Homo sapiens: one gene and its partners. The protein of the gene in region 5 interacts with the protein of the main gene of each other region in a pairwise test. Each region holds a gene or a part of one and is shown on either strand. Other genes may lie near its edges.

Region 1 (2,504 bases), on a different chromosome or scaffold from region 5:
TAGTCCAATGTCCTGGGATCCTCGCTTTTATCTTTGCTATCTGGAGAAGGAAGAGACAGCGGTAGTTCCCAAAAGACACAAACAATGGGGACATTTTAAACGGGAGTAACCAGCTAAGCACTCTGCTGCTGCTGCTTGTCTATTTGCCCTCTTGTCCTGCCTCAGGGTGAATTGTTGGCAGCTACAAATGGCAACCAAGAGAGAATGGAGTTGGGGCTTAGAAGTGCGGTAGAGGAATATGAAGGGGGCTGGAGTTGGAGAGGCTCTTAAAGAAAGAGCTGACTATATTGGGACTGGAGAGTTAATGTAAATCTCTTCTTGGTTCATGGGGATTTTGTTGTTATTGTTTTTTTCCCCATGACACAACTCTCAGGAGATCCTGAGAACACGTGCCCTGATTTGGGGGGGGTTTTAATTTTAACTTTTTTTTTTTTTTTTTTTTTTTGACAGAGTCTCACTCTGTCACCCAGGCTGGAGTGCGGTGGCGCCATCTTGGCTCACTGCAAGCAAGCTCCGCCTCCCGGGTTCACGCCATTCTCCTGCCTCAGCCTCCCAAGTAGCTGGGACTACAGGCGCCTGCCACCACACCCAGCTAATTTTTTGTATTTTTAGTAGAGACGGGGTTTCACTATGTTAGCCAGAATGGTCTCGATCTCCTGATCTCGTGATTCACCCGCCTCGGCCTCCCAAAGTGGTGGGATTACAGGCGTGAGCCACTGTACCTGGCCAAAATTTTTTTTTAATTAGAGACAGTCTCTTGCTGTGTTGCCCAGGCTGATCTCAAGCAGTCCTCCCACCTTGGCCTCCCAAAGTGCTGGGATTACAGGCGTAAGCTATAGCACCCAGCCTTCCTTCTTTCCTTAATTCTATTTTTTTTTTTGTTTGTTTGTTTATTTGTTTGCTTTTGAGATGGGGTCTTGCACTGTTGCCTGGGCTGGAGTACAATAGCGTGATCTCGGCTCCCTGCAACCTCTGCCTCCCAGGTTCAAGGGATTCTCCTGCCTCAGCCTCCCGAGTAGCTGGGATTACAGGTGCCTGCCACCATGCCTGGCTAATTTTTTGTATTTTTAACAGAGACAGGGTTTCACTATGTTGGCCAGGCTAGTCTCAAACTCCTGACCTTGTGATCTGCCCTCCTTGGCCTCCCAAAGTGCGGGGATTACAGGCATGAGCCACCATGCCCAGCCTTCCTTAATTCTATTAATATATGAATCCTTTTCTTTTTTTTAAAAAAAAGAGATAGACTCTTGATCTGTTGCTTAGGCTGGAGTGCAGTGGCACAAATCAGAGCTAACTGCAGCCTCAAACTCCTGAGTTCAAGCAATCCTCCAGCCTCAGCCTCCCGAGTAGTTGGGACCACAGTTGGGAACCACTACACTTGGCCCTACTACGGGTTTTTCCTGTTTGTTTGTTTTTTGTTTTTTTGTTTTTTTGTTTTTTTGTTTTGAGACGGAAGTTTGCTCTCGTTGCCCAGGCTGGAGTGCAATGGCGCGATCTCAGCTCACTGCAGCCTCCGCCTCCCGGGTTCAAGCGATTCTCCTGCCTCAGCCTCCCGAGTAGCTGGGACTACAGGCATGCACTACCATGCCCGGCTAATTTTGTATTTTTAGTAGAGTCGGGGTTTCTCCATGTTGGTAGTCAGGCTGGTCTTCAACTCCTGACCTCTGGTGATCCGCCCATCTCGGTCTCCCAAAGTGCTGGGATTACAGGTGTGAGCCACCGCGCCCAGCTGTTTGTTTTTTTGAGATAGGGTCTCACTCTGTTGCCCAGGCTGGAGTGCAGTGGCATGAACATGGCTTACTGCAGCCTTAACTTCCCAGGCTCAAGCGATCCTCCCTTCTCTGCCTCCTGAATAGCTGGGACCACAGGAATACACCACCACACCTGGCTGATTTTTAAATTTTTTGTAGAGCCAGGGTCTCTCCATGTTGCCCAGGCTGGTCTCAGACTCCTGGGCTCAAGTGATCCTCCCACCTCAGCCTCCCAAAGTGCTGGGGTTATAGGCATGAGCCACTGTACCCAGCCCCCTTCAGGGTCTTATCTTTATAAGGGGTGGGGGGTGGTCAGCACCTTTCTCATTGTTACCTCTACCTTCCCTAGGTATGTGCAGGTGAAATTTGTCTGCATTCGGACCCAATCAAACAGGAAGAGAACGCGGGAGGCAGACATGTGCCCAGCGTACTTGCTCCTAAGGTACAACGAGAGACTAGATAGACTATTTATCAGTGAACTAAACACACAGCACATACATGGTGACTCTAAAGTGGCTAGTCCTGGAGGAGACACCACTGGCAAATCTCAAAAGACAATGTGCCTGCAGAGACTCCAGCCTGTGCAGCCCACAACCAAAAAAGACCTTGACACTGCCGAGAAGTCCCTGGTTGAGCCATCGTTTTGCCTAGATAAGGTACAAGTGTCCTCAAAGCCAGAGCAGGAAGGCATCACTCCTTCTGACCTGGCCAAGATAGCAAAAGTGATGAAGAACTTTCTTAAGGTAGATGAGG
Region 2 (3,048 bases), about 42 Mb from region 5:
CGGTTTGGGTCTCCAGGTATCTAAAAACTGTATTTAAATATGGTCGAGTTTAAGGACTGCAACTCAAGTTTCCCAATGTGGATGTCTGTGAGCCCCCACACATGAAAAAGTCAGAACTTGACTGTATTTTAAGAAGAATCTCTGTTGAGGGAGGAAGGCAGAGCAGTGACTTGGAATAGGGGTGCACCATGCTGAATGTGCTGATCATGCTAAGTCCAGGTCCTCAACCTCCTCCAGTTTCCTTAGTGAACTAAGGACCAGTGGAACCAGGAACCCTATCTTGTGGGTTACAGGGGCCAGCAGCAGGATCACAGTGGTAGGCTCAGCAAGGCGTCAGGTGAGAACCTTTATTTCAGTGATAATTCATTTTTCTTGATAACTGGACTTTAAGAAATAGAGGGGCAAAATTAAGAAAGTATTCCTTGGGGCGGGATGAAACCCTTCTACATCCTGACACCAGCAGACACAAATCATAAGTGATAAGGATGCACAAGGACTAATTTCAAACATACCAGGATTTTTTTATTTTTCAGTGTAAAAATCAAACATGATAAACCTAGAAAACTATCAGCAGGGCTATTTCTTACAGGGTTCCAGCAAGGGTTAGCATTGTTACATTTCAGAAGCTGACTTTCTTTAAACCATCTTTACAGAGGAGTAAACTTCACAGTTCCACACATGGCTGGGCTCCAGGTAGAACTCCATAGGAGTGACGAGGGAAAGTCACCACTGGGCAGGGAGGGCATTTCTGAGAAATGCAGATGAGAGGAGAGGCTGTGAGCACAGGCTGTGTCAAAACCCAGGGCAAGGGCTCCCTCCCGCCTTCCCTCCCAGTGGGAAGGCCACCCTGAGCCCCAAACCACATTCTGTTCCTTCCTCGTCATTCTGCAGACAATGGTCATCCACAGACCACACGTGTGGTGGCTTTGGCAACCAGAAATTTAAAATAAGCTATGGTTTTTCCAGTAGCCAAAATGATCCTGCACCAAAGCTCATAGACTGAGAACCTGAGCATGCAAAACCACAGTCTGGGTGAAGGGATGTCTGCTTTGTAAATGACCTGCTAATTCTTTGCAACCCACAGTAATTTGGTTTCTGTGAACCCACAGAAGCAGGCCCACCAAAAAGGGCCTTGTCTGCTAGCCTGGAGTATACATGAGTCACTGGCGGTGGGATCAGTCATTTTTTAGGCTGCCCCATTTTCCTAACATGTTAAAATGTGTGTTCTCAGTCTTTTCAAGAGAGGAAGAAGCAAAGCGGCACTTACAGAGTGTGAGATAGACACAGATCTGTGGCGAGGGATTGGGGAAGGTGGGTGGCATCTTGGGACTCTCTCCAGGCTTTCTGGAGTGGGGTCAGTGGAGAGATGAACAGTGAGAAACATTTGAAATAACTCAAGTTTTGGAGCAGCGGGGGGTGGGGTACTAATGGCTGAGGACTCACAGACAGTGAGGGAGCAAAGCGCTTTGACTTCCCTGGGTGCGACACCATGAAGTGTCTATAGCACGTGGTTAGCTCACGCTGGTTCCAAGGGTCAGCAGATCCTCTGCCCTTGTGCATTAAAACAACATGAAGGAAACTGTTAGAGATCAGTTACCTCCATAATTCATTTGTAAAGGAATTGCTATTATGATCTAGTATGATCTTGGGATATTTTTCATGTCTTTAAATTTAGGACACGGTACATTTTCCACTGAAAATTTACAATCATCCAACATAATGCACACCACCCCTCAAAGGTAACATTAGCTCATATACAAAATCATGGAAAACCTCACAACATCCTTGGAAGGTAGATATTGTTATATCCTTACAAAAATTTAATACACCCATTAACATTCCTATTTCAAATAGCTCAATCGATATCAACACATAAGACAGCCCACAATTGTGATACAGTATTAAGAAGAAACTCAGGCCAGCCGCGGTGCCTCACGCCTGTAACCCCAACACTTTGGGAGGCTGAGGTGGGCAGATTACTTGAGCCCAGGAGTTCAGGACCAGCCTGGGCAACATGGTGAGACCCTGTCTCTACAAAAAGTACAAAAATTAGCTGGGTGTGGTGACCCACGCCTGTAGTCTCAGCTAGTTGGGAGGCTAAGACGGGAGGATGGCTCGTTGCTTGAGCCCAGGAGGTTGAGGCGGCAAGTAAGCCTTGATTGTGCCACTGCACTCAGCCTGGGGAAACAGAGCGAGACTTTGTCTCAAAAAGAAAAAAAAAAAGAGGAAACTTGTATCCAATTTATTCAAACTGCAAAACCCTGTGTATCTTCATAACAATGGTGGGGCAAAGACTATCTACAGCTGGGGCAAGGGAGAGGCACAGTCTTGTGTTACTTTACAAGCTCTCAGAAGTTTAAAGCCCACAATTGTCCTTCAGGCTCTTCTGAGTCCATGGTCCTAAAGGGTCAGGAGTCCTGAACCCTGGCTTATTCTCAGAACCATTCAGTCGTGCTGCCTTGGAGAACAGAGTCCTTTTCCTGAGGTGGCCCAGGTCCAGCTGCTGGTTTCAGATCAAAATTGACCTCCTTCATCGGCACTTATATCTCAAATCATTCTCCTTGTCTGAACTCTGGATATAGAGGTTTTTTGAACTATACTTTCTGTGTGAACACAAAAATAGCTTCCCATTCTCTAAAAGATGAGGTATCACTATATATCGGGTTTTTTTCTTCTGTTCCTGGTGCTAACTTTTAGGACAAAGTTTCACCACTCCCTTTTCTCTTCTTGAGCTCACAAGTCCCGATGCTGACTCTTTGAGTCCTCAGATAGCCAGGCTCTTTCACATCTTGAGTGTCCCAGAGTTTCCAAATCTCTGCTAGAGTCCAACATACCTCTTCTCAGTGGGGTACTCTTTAAAGTGAGGACTTAAACATTTCCATTGTGGTCTTATCACCTGGGATTATATGTAACAGTACTATTTTTTTCCTTAAAACATTCTTTTTTTTTTTTTTTTTGAGATGGAGTCTCACTCTGTTGTCCAGGCTGGATTGCAATGGCGCGATCTCGGCTCACTGCAACCTCCACCTCCCAGGTTCAAGCAATTCT
Region 3 (3,500 bases), on a different chromosome or scaffold from region 5:
GCTGGGATTACAGGCGCCCGCCACCACACCCAGCTGATTTGTTGTTGTTGTTGTTGTTGTTTTTTGAAGCAGAGTCTTACTCCATTGCCCAGGCTGGAGTGCAGTGGTACGATTTTGGCTCAACACAACCTCTGCCTCCTAGGCTCAAGCGATTCTCCTGCCTCAGCCTCCCGAGTAGCTGGGATTACAGACACACACCACTACTGCCCAGCTAATTTTTGTATTTTTAGTAAAGACAGGGTTTCACCATGTTGGCCAGGCTGGCCTTGAACTCCTGACCTCAAATGATCCACCTGCCTTGGCCTTCCAAAGTGCTGAGATTACAGGTGTGAGCCAGTGCGCCCAGCCCTATATATCTTTTTATAGAGACGGGGTTTCACCATGTTGGCCAGGCTGGTCTCAAACTCCTGGCCTCAAGTGATCTGCCCGTCTCAGCTTCCCAAAGTGCTGGGATTACAGGTGTGAGCCACTGCTCCCAGCCTGTCATTATTAATTGTCACTTCTCTTCTTGAGCAGCTGCCAAGCCCTGGCTTCTGGGAATGGCTCTGCATTCCTTTATTTGTAAGGGCCCTGCGAGGCAGTTACAGTGTCCCCATTTTACCAATGAGCAGCTGAGCCTCAGAGATGCAGGCACCTGCCACGGGTCCCTTGCATTTTGGTTTGGTTTGGTTTCATTTGTGTTTTTTTGTTTGTTCGTTTTTTGTTTTTCTCCTTTGAGATGGAGTCTTGCTCTGTCAGCCAGGCTGGAGTGCAATGGTGCGATCTCGGCTCACTGCAACCTCCGCCTCCCTGGGTTCAAGCGATTCTCCTGCCTCAGCCTTCCAAATAGCTGGAATTATAGGCGCCCACCACCACGCCAGGCTAATTTTTGTATTTTTAGTGGAGACGGGGTTTCATCACTTTGGCCAGGCTGGTGTTGAACTCCTGACCTCAGGTGATCCATCCGCCTTGGCCTCCCAGAGTGCTGGGATTACAGGCATGAGCCACCGTGCCCAGCCTAGTTTGGTTTTTTGAGACAGGGTCTTGCTCTGTCACCCTGGCTGGAGTGCAGTGGTGTGATCACAGCTCACTGCAGTTTTGACCTTCCCATGTTCAGGTGATTCTCCCACCTCAGCCTCCTGAGTAGCTGTGACTAAAGGCATGGGATACCACGCCTGGCTAATTTTTTTATATTTCTAGAGACAGGGTCTCGCCATGTTGCCTGTGCTGGTCTCGAACTCTCTGGGCTCAAGCGATCCTCCCATCTCAGCTTCCCAAAGAGCTGGGACTACAGCTCACATGCCCAGCCCCTCTTTATCATTAATGCAGGGGTCATCTGAAGACATAGCAGGCTGAGTTTGGAGTGGGATGGATGGAGCGGGAGACATAAGACCAAGCTGTGGTGGCTGGAGGCTGGATGAGGGGCACAGTGATGACAGGCAAGGCCACCTCCTACCACCCGGTGAAAGGTGAAGGCTGGGCCTCCTGTTCTCAGGAGGTAGCTGCCAAGCGGGGACCCGAGTCTGCCGGCCTTCTGAGCAAGGAGCTCACCGCTGCTGAGACCCTCAATCCAAGCCATGTGGGCAGCCGGGGGCCCTGGAGGCAGCACATGCTGGCAGGTGCGGGGAGGGAGGGGCTGCGGAGAAGATGCTTCTTGGACCTTTGGCTGTAAGAGAAATGTCACTGCCGTGTCAGAACATACAGACTTAAAGACACAACGGTTGGCCAGGCACAGTGGCTCACACCTATAATCCCAGCACTTTGGGAGGCCGAGGCGGGTGGATCACTTGAGGTCAGAAGTTTGAGACCAGCCTGGCCAACGTGGTAAAACCCTGTCTCTACTGAAAATACAAAAATTAGCCAGGCATGGTGGTGGGCCCTGTAGTCCCAGCTACTCGGGAGGCTGGGGCAGGAAAATCGCTTGAATCTGGCAGGAGGAAGTTGCAGTGAGCCGAGAGCGTGCCACTGTACTCCAGCCTCGGCAACGGAGACATTGTCTCAAAAAAAAAAAAAAAAAAAAGGACACAGCGCTCTTTACCTAGAAAACCATCGAGTCAGAAACCGTGCGGACGAGCGAGGTGCTACGGAAGAAGCTTGGGGAGCTGACGGGCACCGTGAAGGAGGTAACAGTTCCACGCCCGCCTGGAGCCGCTGGGGCCATCAAAGTCCCCTGGCCGCTGGAGGCTGGAGGAAGAGTCGGCTCCTGGGTGGGGGTGGCTTGGCAGCAGTGGGTGGCATGGGGCGTGCTGCCACCCTCGGGAAGGTTTCAGGAGTTCCCGGCACATGCAGGGTGAGGTCAGACTGGCAACCTTGCATGACCGTTGACCCAGGGAGTCGGCAGCAGTAAGTGCTGCTAGCCAGGACTCGAGGAGAACATGAAAATGTTTTTCCTGCCTAAAAATAGGAGGAGAGGGGCCGCTTCCACCCCCTCCCGAGGGTAGAGGCGGGAGGCAGGATTCCTGGGGTGCTGCGGCTCTCCTCGGTTGTCTGTTCTGTCCAGCTTTGCGCAGCATGGGGCGCCCTCACCGCCGTTCTTTCCCCGGGGTCCCCTCCTTGGGAATCCTTGCTGCCAGGCAGTTCCCGGGTCTCCAGAGGACTCCTGCCCATTTTGGAAAGGGGCCAGCAGACCCAGCGTCTCACCCAGAGCCCAGGGCCAGCATCCCGGAAGCCGTGGCGGTGTGCTCATGGCTCTGGGGGTGCCGGTGTGCTCATGGCTCTGGGGGTGCCGGTGTGCTCGTGGCTCTGGGGGTGGCGGTGTGCTCGTGGCTCTGGGGGTGCCGTTGTGCTCATGGCTCTGGGGGTGCCGCGTACCACAGGAGCACAGAAGGCCTCTGCCGGCCTCGGGGAACCAGATCCGCCCTTCTCTCCGGCAGGAATTCATTCCTCCTGCCCCGCCCCCCGGCCGCCAGGGCCGGTGCCAACGCCCCCTCTCTGTGTCTGTCTCAGTAGAGCCTTCACGAAGTCAGTAAAAGTGATCTCGGCCGGAAAATCAAGGAGGGCGTGGAGGAAGCAGCCAAGACGGCCAAGCAGTCGGCCGAGTCGGTATCCAAAGGCGGGGAGAAGCTGGGCAGGACAGCGGCCTTCAGAGCCCTCTCCCAGGTGAGCCCAGTCCTGGGCTAGGGCATGCAGCCTGGGGCGGCCGAACCCAGACACCCACCCCAGCCCCGCTGTGCCTCCCTCGCAGGGGGTGGAGTCCGTGAAGAAGGAAATTGACGACAGCGTCCTGGGACAGACCGGGCCCTACCGGAGGCCCCAGCGACTCCGGAAGAGAACGGAGTTTGCGGGAGATAAGTTCAAGGAGGAGAAAGTGTTTGAGCCAAACGAGTAGGTACCAGCCCGTGGCCCTCGCTGCCCCCATTTTGGGCAGCTTTCACTGCTGTCCATTTCGGGAGCCCACCAATGGTTCCCTCCTGAGTCCGTTTCTTGAGTTTGCCTTCTGCCCAAGGTTCCCGGCTCCCTCGAATTTGAGGGTGAGAGGTGAGGGCGGGGTCCTCAGAGCCCCTAGGTTTGAGGTCTCAGCT
Region 4 (3,500 bases), on a different chromosome or scaffold from region 5:
AGTTAGCTGGGTGTGGTGTCATGTGCCTGTAGTCCCAGTTATTTAGGAGGCTAAGGCAGGAGGATCGCTTGAGCCCAGGAGGTCAGGGTGGCAGTGAACTATGATCACATCACTGCACTGCAGCCTGGGCGACAAAGGGGTACCCTGCCTCTAACAATAAATAAATAAACAAATAGCAGCATGACTGTGTACCTACTGTGTTCCTATTTGTTTATTTTGGCGGTTGAAAAAAGAATTTGAACGTTCCCTGTATCTTGGGGATGCTAGCAGACTAACCTTTTGTTTTCCTTTGAAAATAGGCACCATGCGGGCTGTGCGGAGACACCTGTTCCCCCAGCACTCAGCCCCTGGCCGAGGTGTCGTCTGGGAGTGGCTGAGCGACGATGGCTCCTGGACTGCCTATGAAGCCAGCGTCTGTGACTATCTGGAGCAGCAGGTGGCCAGGGGCAACCAGCTCGTGGACTTGGCCCCCCTGGGGTACAACTACACTGTCAACTACACCACCCACACGCAGACCAACAAGACTTCCAGCTTCTGCCGCAGCGTGCGGCGCCAAGCAGGGCCGCCTTACCCGGTGACCACCATCATCGCTCCGCCGGGCCACACAGGCGTCGCCTGCTCTTGCCACCAGTGCCTCAGTGGCAGCAGAACTGGCCCCGTGTCAGGCCGCTACCGCCACTCCATGACCAACCTCCCTGCATACCCCGTCCCCCAGCACCCCCCACACAGGACCGCTTCTGTGTTTGGGACCCACCAGGCCTTTGCACCGTACAACAAACCCTCACTCTCCGGGGCCCGGTCTGCGCCCAGGCTGAACACCACCAACGCCTGGGGCGCAGCTCCTCCTTCCCTGGGGAGCCAGCCCCTCTACCGCTCCAGCCTCTCCCACCTGGGACCGCAGCACCTGCCCCCAGGATCCTCCACCTCCGGTGCAGTCAGGTATCGTGGGCAACGGCCGCTCGTTTTGTCTGCCCTGTGTTTCCGCTCTTAGCCGGGAAGACTCACCCCAATTCCTGCAGATGCGGCTCCTGCCCCCTAGGTGGTCCTGCCGTGGCATCTCATTTGCATGTGGCATGTGGGTGCCGAGGTGCCGTGGCCATCCAGAGCCTACCTGACCCCTTGTACCTGAGTCCTGGCGGTCACCACACGGGTTAGAATCTACAGTCCTTTCACTCATGATGATTAAGGGCCTCCACATGGAGCAGAGTTAAAGGCCTGTGGCCTCTGCTTGCGGGCTGCATGGCGAGCATTGTGCCCGAGAACACTGGGTCACTGCCTGTACACTGACTCCCGCCTTGTGCCAGGCCCTAAGGACCCAGAGACCAGAGTATCAGCCCTTACCCCTGAGCCCTAGTCTAGTGCAAGGGGCTGTCAGCGCGGTGTGAGGGAGGGCAGAATGTGGAGCACGTGGCAGTGGCTGCAGGTGGCATGGGTGACCTGGCCCCCGTGATGATGCAGCCCAGCCCAGAGTGCCTGGTAGAGCGCTCAGCTCCTTGAGAGAGAGAGAATGATACCACGGGCCCAGTGCAGACCAGAGCGGGTGGCATTTAAAATGAGGAGATTGGTCAGGCACAGAGGCTGACACCTTTAATCCCAGCACTTTGGGAGGCCAAGGCAGGAAGATCATTTGAACCCAGCAGTCAGAGACCAGCCTGAGCAACATAGCGAGACCCCATCTCCACAAAAAAAATTTTTTTAATTAGCCAGGCATGGTGGTACACACCTGTAATCCCAGCTACTTGGGAGACTGAGGCAGGAGGATTGCTGGAGACCAGGAGGTCAAGGCAGCAGTGAGCTGTGATCGCACCACTGCACTTCAGCCCCCTAGGTGACAGAGCGAGACCCTGTCTTAAAGCTGGGCCCAGTGGCTCACGCCTGTAGTTCCAGCACTTTGGGAGGCCGAGGTGGGCGGATCACCTGAGGTCAGGAGTTCAAGACCAGCCTGGCCAACATGGTGAAACCCCATCTCTACTAAAAATACAAAAATTAGCCAGGCATGGTGGCCAGCGCCTGTAATCCCAGCTACTTGGAAGGCTGAGGCAAAAGAATCCCTTGAACCCAGGAGGTGGAGGTTGCAGTGAGCCAAGATCGTGCCACTGCGTTCCAGCCTGGGCAACAAAGAGCGAAACTCCATCTCGGGGGAAAAAAATAAAAAAGATAAAATGAGGAACCCCCCCAGGATTTCCCTGGATTTGGCCAAGGTGAATGGGCTGGCCGTAGCCCTCTGACTGTCTGGGTGACTTGGGGCTTCGTCATTCATTATTGAGAATGTTGGGCTTGGAGCACATTTTGAGAATTCAGAGTGGTAGCTGGGACAGGGCTTTCTGAGAGTGCCCTGGTGCGGGTGGTGAGGGAGTGGGTGGGCCTGGGGCCACCCTGGTCCCAGGGAGGAAATCATCTCCTTTCTCCGCACTGGCCCTGGTCGGCATCCTGCTGCCTCCCTGCTCACCGGCCCACCCCTGCCCACCGCAGCCACGTCAAGGGCTGAAACTTCACAGGGTGGTTGAGACCGCCTTGGCAGCTTCTTGGACCTCTAGTATTTGTTCAGACTGGGTTTCCGAGGACCCTGCCAGCTTGTGTAAGACACAGTGACAGCGCCTCCCGCTCATTGGTTCGTGTCATGTGCCAGGCCCTCCTGAGCAGGCTGCTTGAGTGACTTCACTCATCCCACGATGCTCTCAGGCTGAGCAGTGTTCTTCGCTTACAGGAGAGCACATTCAGGCCCATGAGGTTGGCGACACAGCCAGCAAGTAGCGGAGCTGGGATTCAGCCCAGACCCCAAGAGTGGGCTATCTGGGGCACATGGGGAGTTATTGACATTCCCGGGAAGGCAGGGGGCTCTTTTAATACATTTTAATTTTATTTTATTACTATTTTTAAAGACAAGGTTTTGCTCTGTCACCCAGGCTAGCGTACAGTGGTGCAATCATGGTTCACTGCAGGCTTGAACTCCTGTGCTCAAGTGATCCTCCTGCCTCAGCCTCCTGAGTAGCTGGGACCACAGGTATACACCACCACACCCGGCTAATTTTTCAGTTTTACGTAGAGGCAAGGTCTTGCCATGTTGTCCAGGCTGGTCTTGAATTCTTGGCCTCAAGCAATTCTCTTGCCCCAGCCTTCCAAAGTGCTGAGATTATAGGCATGAGCCACCACACCTGGCCCAAAAGGCCTCTTGAGGGATGAGCTAGGAGGAGGCCAGTAGACAGGAGGGTGATGGGCCTTGGGTGAGTCAGAGTTTTCCGGGGCATCTTCTGCCAGGAGTTGGGGCACGTGCATCTGAGATCTTTCTGGGAGTTGGGAGTATAGGAAGGTGTCATCGGGGCTCTCTGAGGACATAGACATAGGCAAGCCAGGCTCAGGGAGATGCTCCCCCAACTTCCCTCCCTGAGTATCTGGGTCAGCCTGTTTCAGAGAACAGTGTGCTCTATCTGCTGGCCCAGGAGGGTTCTTAGAGGTGCTGGGACTTCTGTCAGCCCTGTTCCACTCAGCTTCCTGGAGCT
Region 5 (3,500 bases):
AGGATCGGACTACCCAGAACCACACCGGATGTGTGCTGCCCAAGTTTCCCCTAGTAACCAAAGCTGCCACGTTAAAACGTCACGTTTCCTTCTTTCCAGAGACAAGGATACTATCTGAACATGATAAAAAATCCATGTTCCCAACGTCTGAGATGGCTCTCCCTGAACGAGCCCTGCTGAGTCTGAGAAATTCGGCGTGGACAGCCTGGGAAGTCAGCCATAGTCACGGCCCAGCCAGAAACTCTGACAAGAATGGCTGCGCCCTGCCAACTACAACCAGCCTCAAATCGCCACTGTCCCCAGATGCTGCCAAGAGCCCCCCACCTGCTGGGCAGGACCACCCACAGCTGGATCCTCCTCAAACTCCTTCTTTGGAAGTGACTTTGGAGCCACTTGAGGAAGCCTCACTACTTAGAAAAGTCACCACTGGTCTCTTACTGACCACGGATTTTAGACGCTGGCTTCATGCCTAAAGAACTCCGGCTGTTCTCAAACTCATCCATAATCGACAAAGCTCTTTGGTTTCTGAGAATTCCAAGAGAAAGTCCTCTGCAGGCCATTTCAGAAGCAGCCTCAGGGACCTGTGAACAACGGGAGTGAGCTCAGCACTTCCGGGGACAACTGGACAGTCCACAGGAGGGCCCATCATGACGTGAGCGTGGCCTCCTTCTCTGCTGACCTGACTGTGGCAAATTAGTGACACACTGGCCTATCCTACTATGACCAAGCTCCCAACATCCGACAGGACCAGAGAGGGGACCCTGTCACACCTGCACAAAGCCCTTCATCACTGCTGCACCTGCACAGACGCAGCCCCTTATGACACCCCCATAGACACAGCTTCTAGTAACACTTACACCTACCTGCATAGACAGAGCCATTTATTACACCTGCACCTGCAGAGACGCAGCCCCTCATCACACCTGCACCTTCACAGAAGAAGCCCCTCAGGACACCTGCAGAGACGCAGCCCCTCATGACTCCTGCACCTGCAGAGACGCAGCCCCTCGTGACTCCTGCAGAGACGCAGCCCCTCATGACTCCTGCACCTGCAGAGACGCAGCCCCTCGTGACTCCTGCACCTGCAGAGACGCAGCCCCTCGTGACTCCTGCACCTGCAGAGACGCAGCCCCTCGTGACTCCTGCAGAGACTCAGCCCCTCGTGACTCCTGCAGACGCAGCCCCTCATGACTCCTGCAGAGATGCAGCCCCTCGTGACTCCTGCAGAGACGCAGCCCCTCGTGACTCCTGCACCTGCAGACACACAGCCCCTCATGACTCCTGCACCTGCAGAGACACAGCCCCTCGTGACTCCTGCAGACGCAGCCCCTCGTGACTCCTGCAGAGACGCAGCCCCTCATGACACCTGCAGAGACGCAGCCCCTCGTGACACCTGCACCTGCAGAGACGCAGCCCCTCATGACACCTGCACCTGCACAGGCACAGCCCCTCATCACACGTAAACCTGCAGAGATGCAGCCCCTTGTCACATATGCACACAGTGGCAGCATCTCTGACTGTGGTCTCTAGATATAAATCTATAGGATGTCTTTCAACAAAACCCCAGCACAGCTGAGTCTCTTGGAGGTGTAGGCTGAGTTTCCAGAACATTGAGGAGAAATTCGGTGACTGCCACTTTTCAGTTGAAGCATCTGTTTTTAAACTTATCATAATTGAATTCCAAATTCTTTTCCATAGTAAATAATTCATGTTTTTAAAATTATACCTTTCTAAAAATAAATTTAAAAGTTTCATCATTTCTGAGGTGTGCTGGTTAATTCCATGTGTCAAATGACTGGGCTACGGGCTGCCCGGATAGCTGGTAAAAAATTATTTCTGGGAGTGTCTGCAAGGGTGTTTCCAGAAGAGACTAGCCCTCCTCCTGTGGATGGGCGTCATTCAATCCACTGAGGGCCTGAATAGAACGAAATGCAAGGAAGGGTGAACTCGCTCTCTCTGCTTGAGCTGAGACACTCGCCTTCTCCTGCCCTTGGACATTGGGCTCCTGCATCTTGGGCCTTCAGAGCTGGACCAGGACTCACATCAGTGGCTCCCTGGTGCTCAGGCCTTTGCCCCTGGGCTGAATTACACCACCAGCTTCCCAGGTTTTCCAGCTTGCAGATGACAAACTGTGGGACTTCATGGCCTCCGTAACTGCACGAGTGAATTCCTACAATTTATCTCCTATATATCTACACGTCTCCTATTGCCTGTTTCCCTGGAGAACCCTGACTAATCCATGAGGAAAGAAAACAAGGAAACACTGTGGAGGTGGCTGCATGTAGACATCCCATCCTGTTTCCCTGCAGACCATCCCAGAGTGGCATCTGCCCCAAAGACCCCATTTTACTCCCAAGGAGAATGCAGGCAATGAACCAAATGGTTGTCTTTTCCTCAGCCCTATATGATTTCAGTTTCACAGTGGGCAGGCAGGGAAAGCACCCAGGAAGGGGCCGACCCAGAGGCTCTACCTGTCTCTGCAGAGCAAGCTCACCGTCGAGCTCCTCAAGTTTTCTCTCCAGTGTCCATTTTAGATTTTCATACTGTTCCCGGTGGTGGTCAATCTCACCATTCTTGTCACTATGGTAATAAAACAGCATTAAGAAAAGCCATACCAAATATTCAGCAAAGGTAATACATTTTCAAGGTGCACTTGACATGTGAAAGTTGGTGCTTTGCTTTTATGAAGGGGTGGCTTCAGCAGGACCCACGGGGTAGCAGAACTTCCAGCCCCACCTGGACCAGCATGCTACACCCATCTATAAAAGAGGAAATTAAATAGGGCCCAGAGTCTCACAACATAAAACCCAAAATGTCCAGGATACAATTAAAAAAAAAACCTGACAACCAAAAACCGGAAAGATCTGACCAGGCCCAGTGGCTCACGCCTGTAATCCCAGCACTTTGGGAGGCCGAGGTGGGCGGATCACAAGGTCAGGAGATCGAGAGCATCCTGGCTAACACGGTGAAACCCCGTCTCTACAAAAAAATACAAAAAAAATTAGCCGGGCGTGGTGGCGGGCGCCTGTAGTCCCAGCTACTCGGGAGGCTGAGGCAGGAGAATGGCGTGAACCCGGGAGGTGGAGCTTGCAGTGAGCTGAGATCGTGCCACTGCACTCCAGCCTGGGCGACAGAGCGAGACTCCATCTCAAAAAAAAAAAAAAAAAGAAAAAGGAAAAAAAAGAAAGATCTGAGCTTGAAGGAGAAAAGATAATAGGTAGATGCCAACACCAAGATGACACAGACGCTGGAATTCTTCAACAAGGAAGCTACAGCAGTCATTATAAAAGCGCTTCAAGTAATCTAGTAAAGCAAATGGAAAAACAAATCTCAGCAAAGAAAAAGCTATAGCAGGCTGGGTGTGGTGGCTCACGCCTGTAATTCCAGCGCTTTGGGAGGCCAAGGCAGGTGGATCACCCGGGGTCAGGAGTCCAAGACCAGCCTGGCCAACATGGTGAAACCCCATCTCCACTAAAAATACAAAAATTAGCCGGGCATGG
Region 6 (3,500 bases), on a different chromosome or scaffold from region 5:
TGGGGGCGGGGGACGGGGCAGATGTGGCTTGGGGTTTGGTAGCCGTCTCTGCCTGAAGGGTTGGAGGTGCCTTGGTGTCAGTGGCTGGTACCATGGATGGAGCAGGGATCAGCCCCAGCAAAGTGGTCGGGGGTTTGGAGTCAAAGGAGGGGCTGGGGAGCAGCCCTGGCGGCCCTGACTGTGATAAACCCAGCGGGGGTAGGAGGCTGGGTGTCTTTGGAGGTGAGAGGGCCTCAGTGGTTGCTGCTCCAGCAGATTCTGGAAGAAGAATAGAAAATGTGAAATTGGAATAAACACTTCAAAGATGATGGTATTCAGTATTTCAGTGTCCTCCCCACGCCTACCACAGAGCCTGGGATCCAAGAGTCAGTCAATAAACTCAGCTAAGTCTACACTACAGGCCTGTACAGTAAATCAAGGAAGTGTTATTTCTACCTCACAGATCATCAGACAGAAGGGGATAAAATGGGGCCTAAATGGGGGCCTAATGTGTAGAGACTAAGACAGTCCAATTGTCTGAACTCTGAAGTTCACGTATGAATCTAGATATACTTTATTTGCCTACTAAGCTCACCTGCCAGGCGCTAAGAGCACACAACTATGAATGGGGAAGTCTCTGCCCTTGAGCAGGGAGGGTGCGTACGAACCCCAGGTTACCGTCTGATAAAGAGGTGTGCGCGCGCAGTGCCGTGAAGGCCTGGGCCGGGAACACCAGCAGCCCTCGAAGTGCTGGAGGGAAAGGAAGCAGTGCTGTTCTGGACCAGTGGTTCTGACAGGCAAGGATATCCTGACCACGCCACCACATTCACACTTCAGAGGTGCCGCACAGGGAAGATCATTCTCATCTGACAGATGAGGAAGGCGAGGCTCAGGGCAGCTACGAGCCAGGCTTCAGATCCTGAGCGTCGCAGCACCCCTTCTCTAACACTTCCTGATGCGGGCTCTGGCGCTGTTAAACGTGGGCCCGCTCCGGTGTGCTGAGCCAGGGTGCGTTCGGCCTGCAGAGCAATCTCCAGCGACTGACAGGCACGACGCCCTTATTCCAACTCAAGCCGGGGATGCTGCTCAGAAGGCTGGATCCACGGCCCCACTCCAGCTCACCTGGGCAGGGTGGCAGGCTCGGGGGAGTCTGCATCTTCTTCAAGCTCTCTAACAGTGGGTTGGTGCTTGGGGCCAGGAGGGAGGTGGGTGGGGAGGCAGGTGCAGCAGCAGGCAGGGTAAAGGTAAATGAAGGCTGAGTGATAGGTGGGGTCTCAGTGACAGAGTTCGAGGCAGCATCTAAGAAAGAAAGAAAGGTGAAGCAGTCCTGGCTTGTCTGGGACTTCTTTCCACATGCCTGTCGGAGAGCAGGCTCTCAGCACAGCTCATGGAGGAATGCCTGCCCTCAATTGCAGTGGTCCCTGCTGTCCAGTTCCCGTGAAGACCAACACGGATATCTCAGGTGAGAAAGACCACAAGAAAACATGGAACCCTACTTGGGATTTTCCCAGAGAAACCCATTTTTTCAAACACCAAAATAAAACCAAAGAAAACAGACACCTGAAACCTCTCCAGTGTGCAACAATCTGTGCTCCTTACCGCTCTTGTCCTCCAAGGCCTGGTTGAACCACTGTAATGAAGCCTTCTTCTCTAAGTCTAGGTCCTCGGCAGTGATCGAATAGCCAAGCTGGGGAGGTGGAGGCTACCAAAGTGAAAAAGAAGAAGTCAGGCCAATCAGAAAAAACGGGAAGGCTAGGCATGGTGGCTCACACCGGTAATCTCAGCACTTTGGGAGGCCAAGCCAGCTGGATCACTTGAGGTCAGGAGTTTGAGGCCGGCCTGGCCAACATGGTGAAACCCCATCTCTACTAAAAACACAAAAAATCAACCAGGCGTGGTAGCAAGCACCTGTAATCCCAGCTACTTGGGAGGCTGAGGCAGGAGAATTGCTTGAACTCAGGAGGCAGAGGTTACGGTTAGCCAAAATCGAGCCACTGCACTCCAGCCTGGGTGACAGAGGGATGTTGTCTCAAAAAACAAAAACAAAAATAAATTAGAAAAAAAATCAGAAGAAACTTGTCCTTAGCGTTCCTAATACTTAGGAGAGCTAAGCCGGGGAGGGCAGGAGTAGATGGACAAGACCATACCAAGGTCAGCTGTTCCCCTCGCCGAGAAGGCAGCAGCTGAACTTTCCGCTTACGCTGCCCAGAGCTGCCAGGTGTAGACTGAGAATTCGAGTTTTGTTTCTTCCTTGGGGTTGTATCTGCAGCTAAAGAAAGAAATCAAGACTCGTTTGCTTCCTTCCCTCTTCCAGAAATGGATGGTTGTGTCTACCCACTTCGCATTTCACATTGAGTTTTCAATGGGTATCTCTGAAAAGATTCAATCTTCTATGGTTTGGTTGCTTGGATGGTGTTTGCAAGATTAAGGCGCGCACACAAACCGCTTACTGTGCAGTAATTACTGGGATCACCCACAGGTGACTCAAACTGAGCTTACCTCTATCCAATCGTTAGTCCCTGTCTGTAGCCTTTCTCCCTCATCAGACTATAAACTTCTGAAGGAGAGGAAATCTCTCTCTTTGTATCTAACATGCCTTAGACATAGCAATGCTCAAGACCTTTTTTCAATAGGTATTAATCTCTACATCCTCCACAAACACCTCCACCACCAACAGCAGCCCCTCCTCCTGGCTCAGCAACCTACCCTTTTCTCCCTGGGACTCCCTGTCTGCTGCCAATGGAGTTGAAGAACTGGAATGATGACACAGCTCCTCTTCTCTGTCAGGAAAAAAGGAACAATTTAGTCTAGAAAGGCTTCTTGGCTGAAGTATTAAATAATTTCTCACACCCTCCTAACTACCAAGTGGCCAATGTCTAAAACAACCATCATTTAAGATCTCAGTATGCCAGGATAAAAAAAGTCAACAGGAAATTCCAACAGAATGAAGGGAGGCTGTTCACAGAGGCCATGAAGACAGCTTTTGTCTTAAAACAAGCACAAAACAATAATCTTCAAACCTTACTTACAACCTATCAAGTCCCTGGGAGTTCTAGACACAGATGTGATCCCTGAGGGAGTGGCATTCCAGCCAACTGCAAGCACCTAGGGGGTCAGCTCGAGTCAAGAACCTGAAGGCGACTGCCCGCTGACTTGACTCTCTCTGCTCTCCACTCTGCATGGCCTCTGTGCTTGCACCCGATCCCTCATGCTGGAGTGGGAGGCGACAGCCAGAGGCCACTGGAGTCAGTATCCAAGACTGTAGGGATGACAGCACTTCGGGTGGGTACTGCATTGTACCTCTCAGGGACTTAAGTTTCTTTGATTCTCCAAGTCACAGCAGCACAAAGCCTAAGAGCCAGGTTCGTTTCCCACCTTTCCTCACCCCCGCCTGTCCACGCAGCAAATGAAAACTGCAGGAGAATGCCAAGTACCTTATTTTCTTTGCTGGCCTCTCCGGTGTCTGGGAGCGGGAGGAGGCTGGGCTAGAGAAGGGTGATGAACTGGGGCCATTTCTCTTC
Region 7 (3,500 bases), on a different chromosome or scaffold from region 5:
CATGCGGAGGTGCGGTTTTTCAGTGCTGGCACTGGGGATTCCTCCCTCTCCATCCTTCCTCCTTTCCTTCCTTCCTTACGTGTTCATTGAAACCTACTCTGTGCCAGCTATGCATGCAGAAGGCAGGGTCAGGCTGACACGGGGCCCTTCCCAGAGAGGCTTCAGCCTCACACACACTGCGCCACGGGTCTGCCTTGGGTACAAAAAGGGTGAGAGGTCAGTCTCCCTGGGGAAGGAGCACCTGGAGCTTATTCAAAGGTGGAGCAGGAAACCATGTTCTAAGAAGGACGCCAAAGGCCAGCAAGGTTCAGCTGCAGTGCTGACTGAGGGGGTGTGGCCACCGCAGGGGACATGTGTCCTGTTTTGCACCTGGACAGCCCCTCTTCAATACTTTCCTGTGGTATGTGGCTTCACTAAGGAGAAGCTAGAAAACCCCCTCTCCCAGCTCCCTTTGCACCTGTGCTGCAGGAGTGTGACCAGACGCCTCCAAGCCAAAGCGTGGATTTGGAAATGACGGTGAAGGTAGTGATGGTGGCATGTGGCACTGAGGGACAGCAGTGGTGGGGGCTCTGGTCAGTGGTGTGAGTGGTGATGTCTTGCCCAGCAGGGGTGCCGTGGGGCCTATACTGGCACCAACCCCTGCTGGAGTCTGGACTTCATTCCTGCTGCCCATCTTCCATCCCGACTCTCTGGCCCTCCTGGAGATCCTATGGGCTATCTCATACTCTTCCATAAACTCCTTTCTTGCTTAAAACAGTTCCAGTGGATTCTCATGTTTGCAGGTAAGAACCATGGCTGCATTTTCTGAAGCTCTGTCCTGGCCAGGAGTTGGAAGGAAGATGACTGCCTCAGGTGATCAGGCTTGGCTGGCAGTGGCAGTGCTGCCCACCCGAGAAGGGGTGGACAGATGAGGGCCTCAGGAGGGAGGGAGGGTGGCCTAGCACTTGGCTGTTGGGCAGGGGCAGATCCCACCTGGCAGCATGCTGTACATTGGGAGGGGGCTGTGAGATGGCCTGCAAGCCCCATTCAGCCTAGGAGGCCAGGAGTCTATAGAGTCCAACCTCATTTTGGTGGGGAACCAGGCCTAAGGTCACACCCAGAGCGCTGGAATGGAGCTGGCCAGGGGAGACCAAGCACTAGCAGGAAGTCCAGGGTGGGCAGGGAGCAGCTCCGGGGAGGCGAGAGGGGGCTCAGAGGGCAGATGAGTAGGGTAGGATGAGGGGTCGATAGAGGACACATGGCACCACCTGGTAACCCCAAACTCCAGCAGCTAGCACCAGACCTGACACACAGGTTCTCAAAACATATGTATGATGGAATAAATCAATGCATGAAACCGAGCACAGCCACTTTTTTGCCTTTGCAGACTCAGAGAACAGAAATCCCAGCCCTTCATCTCTCAGGCCAGAAACCCAGGCATCATCTGGGGATTCCTCCTACCCATTCTCCAATTCCAATCTCCATTCCTGTGGCATCTCTTGACCTGCCTGTTTCTCCCCATCCCCACTGCCCCTGTCTTGGTCCAGGCCACCATCATCTCTCTCCTGGACATTGTGGCCTCCTCCCAAGTTCTCTTCCAGCCTCCCATCCTGGCCTCCTCTGTCCATCTTCCACTCTATCTCTAAAGTGACTTTTCTAAAGCACTAATCTGACCATGTGAATGCTTTCATCCCTCAGTTCAAAACACTCCCCTGGGCTGGGTGCAGTGGCTCACACCTCCCAGCTCTTTGGGAGGCCAAGGTGGGCAGATCACTTGAGGTCAAGAGTTTGAGACCAGCCTGGCCAACATGGTGAAACACTGTCTCTACTAAAAATACAAAAATTAGCTGGGCATGGTGGCACGTGCTTGTCGTCTCAGCTCTTCCAGGGGCTGAGGCAGGAGAATCCCTTGAACCTGGGAGGCAAAGGTTGCAGTAAGCTGAGATTGAGCCACTGCATTCTAGCCTGGGCAATAGAGTGAGACCCTGTCTCAAAAACAAACAAACAAACATTCCTGTCTCCTATCTCATTACAGGACAAAGTCTGAACTCCATGGCACATAAGGCCTTCATGAACTAACTATGGCCTATGGATCCAGCTGTGTCTCTCAATCCCCCCACCCTTATACCCTCACCTCTCCTCAAGTCAGGCTGCACCCCAGCTGGTTCCCCAGCCTGTCAAGCTCTCACATGTACACAGTTCCTGTCTGTCCTCTCTGCGTCCTCTCTATATACAGTGTGCTCCTACTCATTGTCCAGCACCCAACCCTACCATCACCTCTTCCTAGAAGTCTTCCCAGACTGCATCCTTCTCCCAGCCAGAGAGTGTCAGACATTTCTTGGACATAATTTTGCTAGCTTCATATTTACAAAATTGTTTAAGCTGTATTGTAAATAACTGTTTCTGAGCAAGTCCCCCACCCAACTGTGAGCTCCTAATGTCCAGCAAGTGACCTGGCTCAGTACATATTGATGAATAAACGAATGAACACATAGAAGGTGGGAACGGTGAATGATTAAAATCATTAGCTGTGGCCCAAGAGAATTTGAAAAAAAAAGATGACAAAGCCCTGAAACCGTTTTCTGATGTGAGAATAGCATGCTTCTCCATGGAAGGATTCCTTTGTATTCCATAGCCTTAAAAACGACCATTATTTAAAAAGAGACAATTACATGTAACACTTTGTGCATCTTGCCTCTCTTAAAGCACAACACCCATTATGCCTAGGAAAACACTTCATCCAGAATTTGGCTCAAACAGCTGACAATGAGACACAGGCTGAACCGACTGAGGCCACATAAAGACACAAGAGTGGAAATCCCCAGCTGGAGACTGGCTTGGCGGGTTTTGTGTTGACTGGCTTATTTGTCTGTCTTATTTTCCAGCCAGAGCCCATACTAATCTGTGGTTAGAGTTGGTGCCACTTTTAGTTGTACCCTGCCTTGTCCCACAGCCTTTAAAGTGTCTTGTGAAGGTCCTCTAATAAGGCAAGATTTTTCTTTATAGCGAGAAAAATGAAGCTAAGAGAAAATTAGACACAAAGTGTTTGCCATGAAGCCTTAGTCTGGTTAGTCAAAGCAGATTTGGCTCTGAACTTCCCAAGGCAAAGAAGGAAACAGGAGGAGCTCTATTAGTGGAAAAGCAATTCTAGTGCAGAAGTGACTGCACAGGGATATTGACACCAGACAACAGTTTCTTCCACGGTTCCCTAAAGACAGGAACACCATCGGCCGGGTGCGGTGGCTCACGCCTGTAATCCCAGCACTTTGAGGGGCCGAGGGGGGCGGATCACGAGGTCAGGAGATGGAGACCATCCTGGCTAACATGGTGAAACCCCATCTCTACTAAAAAATACAAAAAATTAGCTGGGCGTGGTGGGGGGCGCCTGTAGTCCCAGCTACTCGGGAGGCTGAGGCAGGAGAATGGTGGGAGGTGGAGCTTGCTGTAAGCCGAGATCACACCACTGCACTCCAGCCTGGGCGACAGAGCAAGACTCCGTCTCAAAAAAAAAGAAAAAAGTA

What was found.
Region 1: the proteins of CCDC57 (region 5) and ZSWIM3 interact in binary tests that used the Homo sapiens proteins (3 or more experiments, as listed by UniProt).
Region 2: the proteins of CCDC57 (region 5) and IKZF3 interact in binary tests that used the Homo sapiens proteins (3 or more experiments, as listed by UniProt).
Region 3: the proteins of CCDC57 (region 5) and TIMM44 interact in binary tests that used the Homo sapiens proteins (3 or more experiments, as listed by UniProt).
Region 4: the proteins of CCDC57 (region 5) and DTX2 interact in binary tests that used the Homo sapiens proteins (3 or more experiments, as listed by UniProt).
Region 6: the proteins of CCDC57 (region 5) and POM121 interact in binary tests that used the Homo sapiens proteins (3 or more experiments, as listed by UniProt).
Region 7: the proteins of CCDC57 (region 5) and TRIM14 interact in binary tests that used the Homo sapiens proteins (3 or more experiments, as listed by UniProt).

Annotation. Positions count from the first base shown.
Region 1 is NC_000020.11:45,874,614-45,877,117, forward strand, and holds part of ZSWIM3 (zinc finger SWIM domain-containing protein 3), read left to right. Parts: intron 1-2,100; coding exon 2,101-2,504.
Region 2 is NC_000017.11:39,757,218-39,760,265, forward strand, and holds the end of IKZF3 (zinc finger protein Aiolos), read right to left. Parts: 3' UTR 501-3,048; downstream 1-500. UniProt on the Homo sapiens protein: Transcription factor that plays an important role in the regulation of lymphocyte differentiation. Plays an essential role in regulation of B-cell differentiation, proliferation and maturation to an effector state.
Region 3 is NC_000019.10:7,933,667-7,937,166, reverse strand, and holds part of TIMM44 (mitochondrial import inner membrane translocase subunit TIM44), read left to right. Parts: intron 1-2,021; coding exon 2,022-2,102; intron 2,103-2,928; coding exon 2,929-3,078; intron 3,079-3,163; coding exon 3,164-3,303; intron 3,304-3,500. UniProt on the Homo sapiens protein: Essential component of the PAM complex, a complex required for the translocation of transit peptide-containing proteins from the inner membrane into the mitochondrial matrix in an ATP-dependent manner.
Region 4 is NC_000007.14:76,482,209-76,485,708, forward strand, and holds part of DTX2 (probable E3 ubiquitin-protein ligase DTX2), read left to right. Parts: intron 1-299; coding exon 300-939; intron 940-3,500. UniProt on the Homo sapiens protein: Regulator of Notch signaling, a signaling pathway involved in cell-cell communications that regulates a broad spectrum of cell-fate determinations.
Region 5 is NC_000017.11:82,195,843-82,199,342, forward strand, and holds part of CCDC57 (coiled-coil domain-containing protein 57), read right to left. Parts: intron 2,583-3,500; exon of another isoform or gene 2,581-2,582; coding exon 2,472-2,580; intron 1,255-2,471; exon of another isoform or gene 1-1,254. UniProt on the Homo sapiens protein: Pleiotropic regulator of centriole duplication, mitosis, and ciliogenesis. Critical interface between centrosome and microtubule-mediated cellular processes. Centriole duplication protein required for recruitment of CEP63, CEP152, and PLK4 to the centrosome.
Region 6 is NC_000007.14:72,938,595-72,942,094, reverse strand, and holds part of POM121 (nuclear envelope pore membrane protein POM 121), read right to left. Parts: coding exon 3,414-3,500; intron 2,760-3,413; coding exon 2,686-2,759; intron 2,249-2,685; coding exon 2,127-2,248; intron 1,682-2,126; coding exon 1,579-1,681; intron 1,279-1,578; coding exon 1,102-1,278; coding exon of another isoform or gene 1,084-1,101; intron 259-1,083; coding exon 1-258. UniProt on the Homo sapiens protein: Essential component of the nuclear pore complex (NPC). The repeat-containing domain may be involved in anchoring components of the pore complex to the pore membrane. When overexpressed in cells induces the formation of cytoplasmic annulate lamellae (AL).
Region 7 is NC_000009.12:98,095,223-98,098,722, forward strand, and holds part of TRIM14 (tripartite motif-containing protein 14), read right to left. Parts: intron 1-3,500.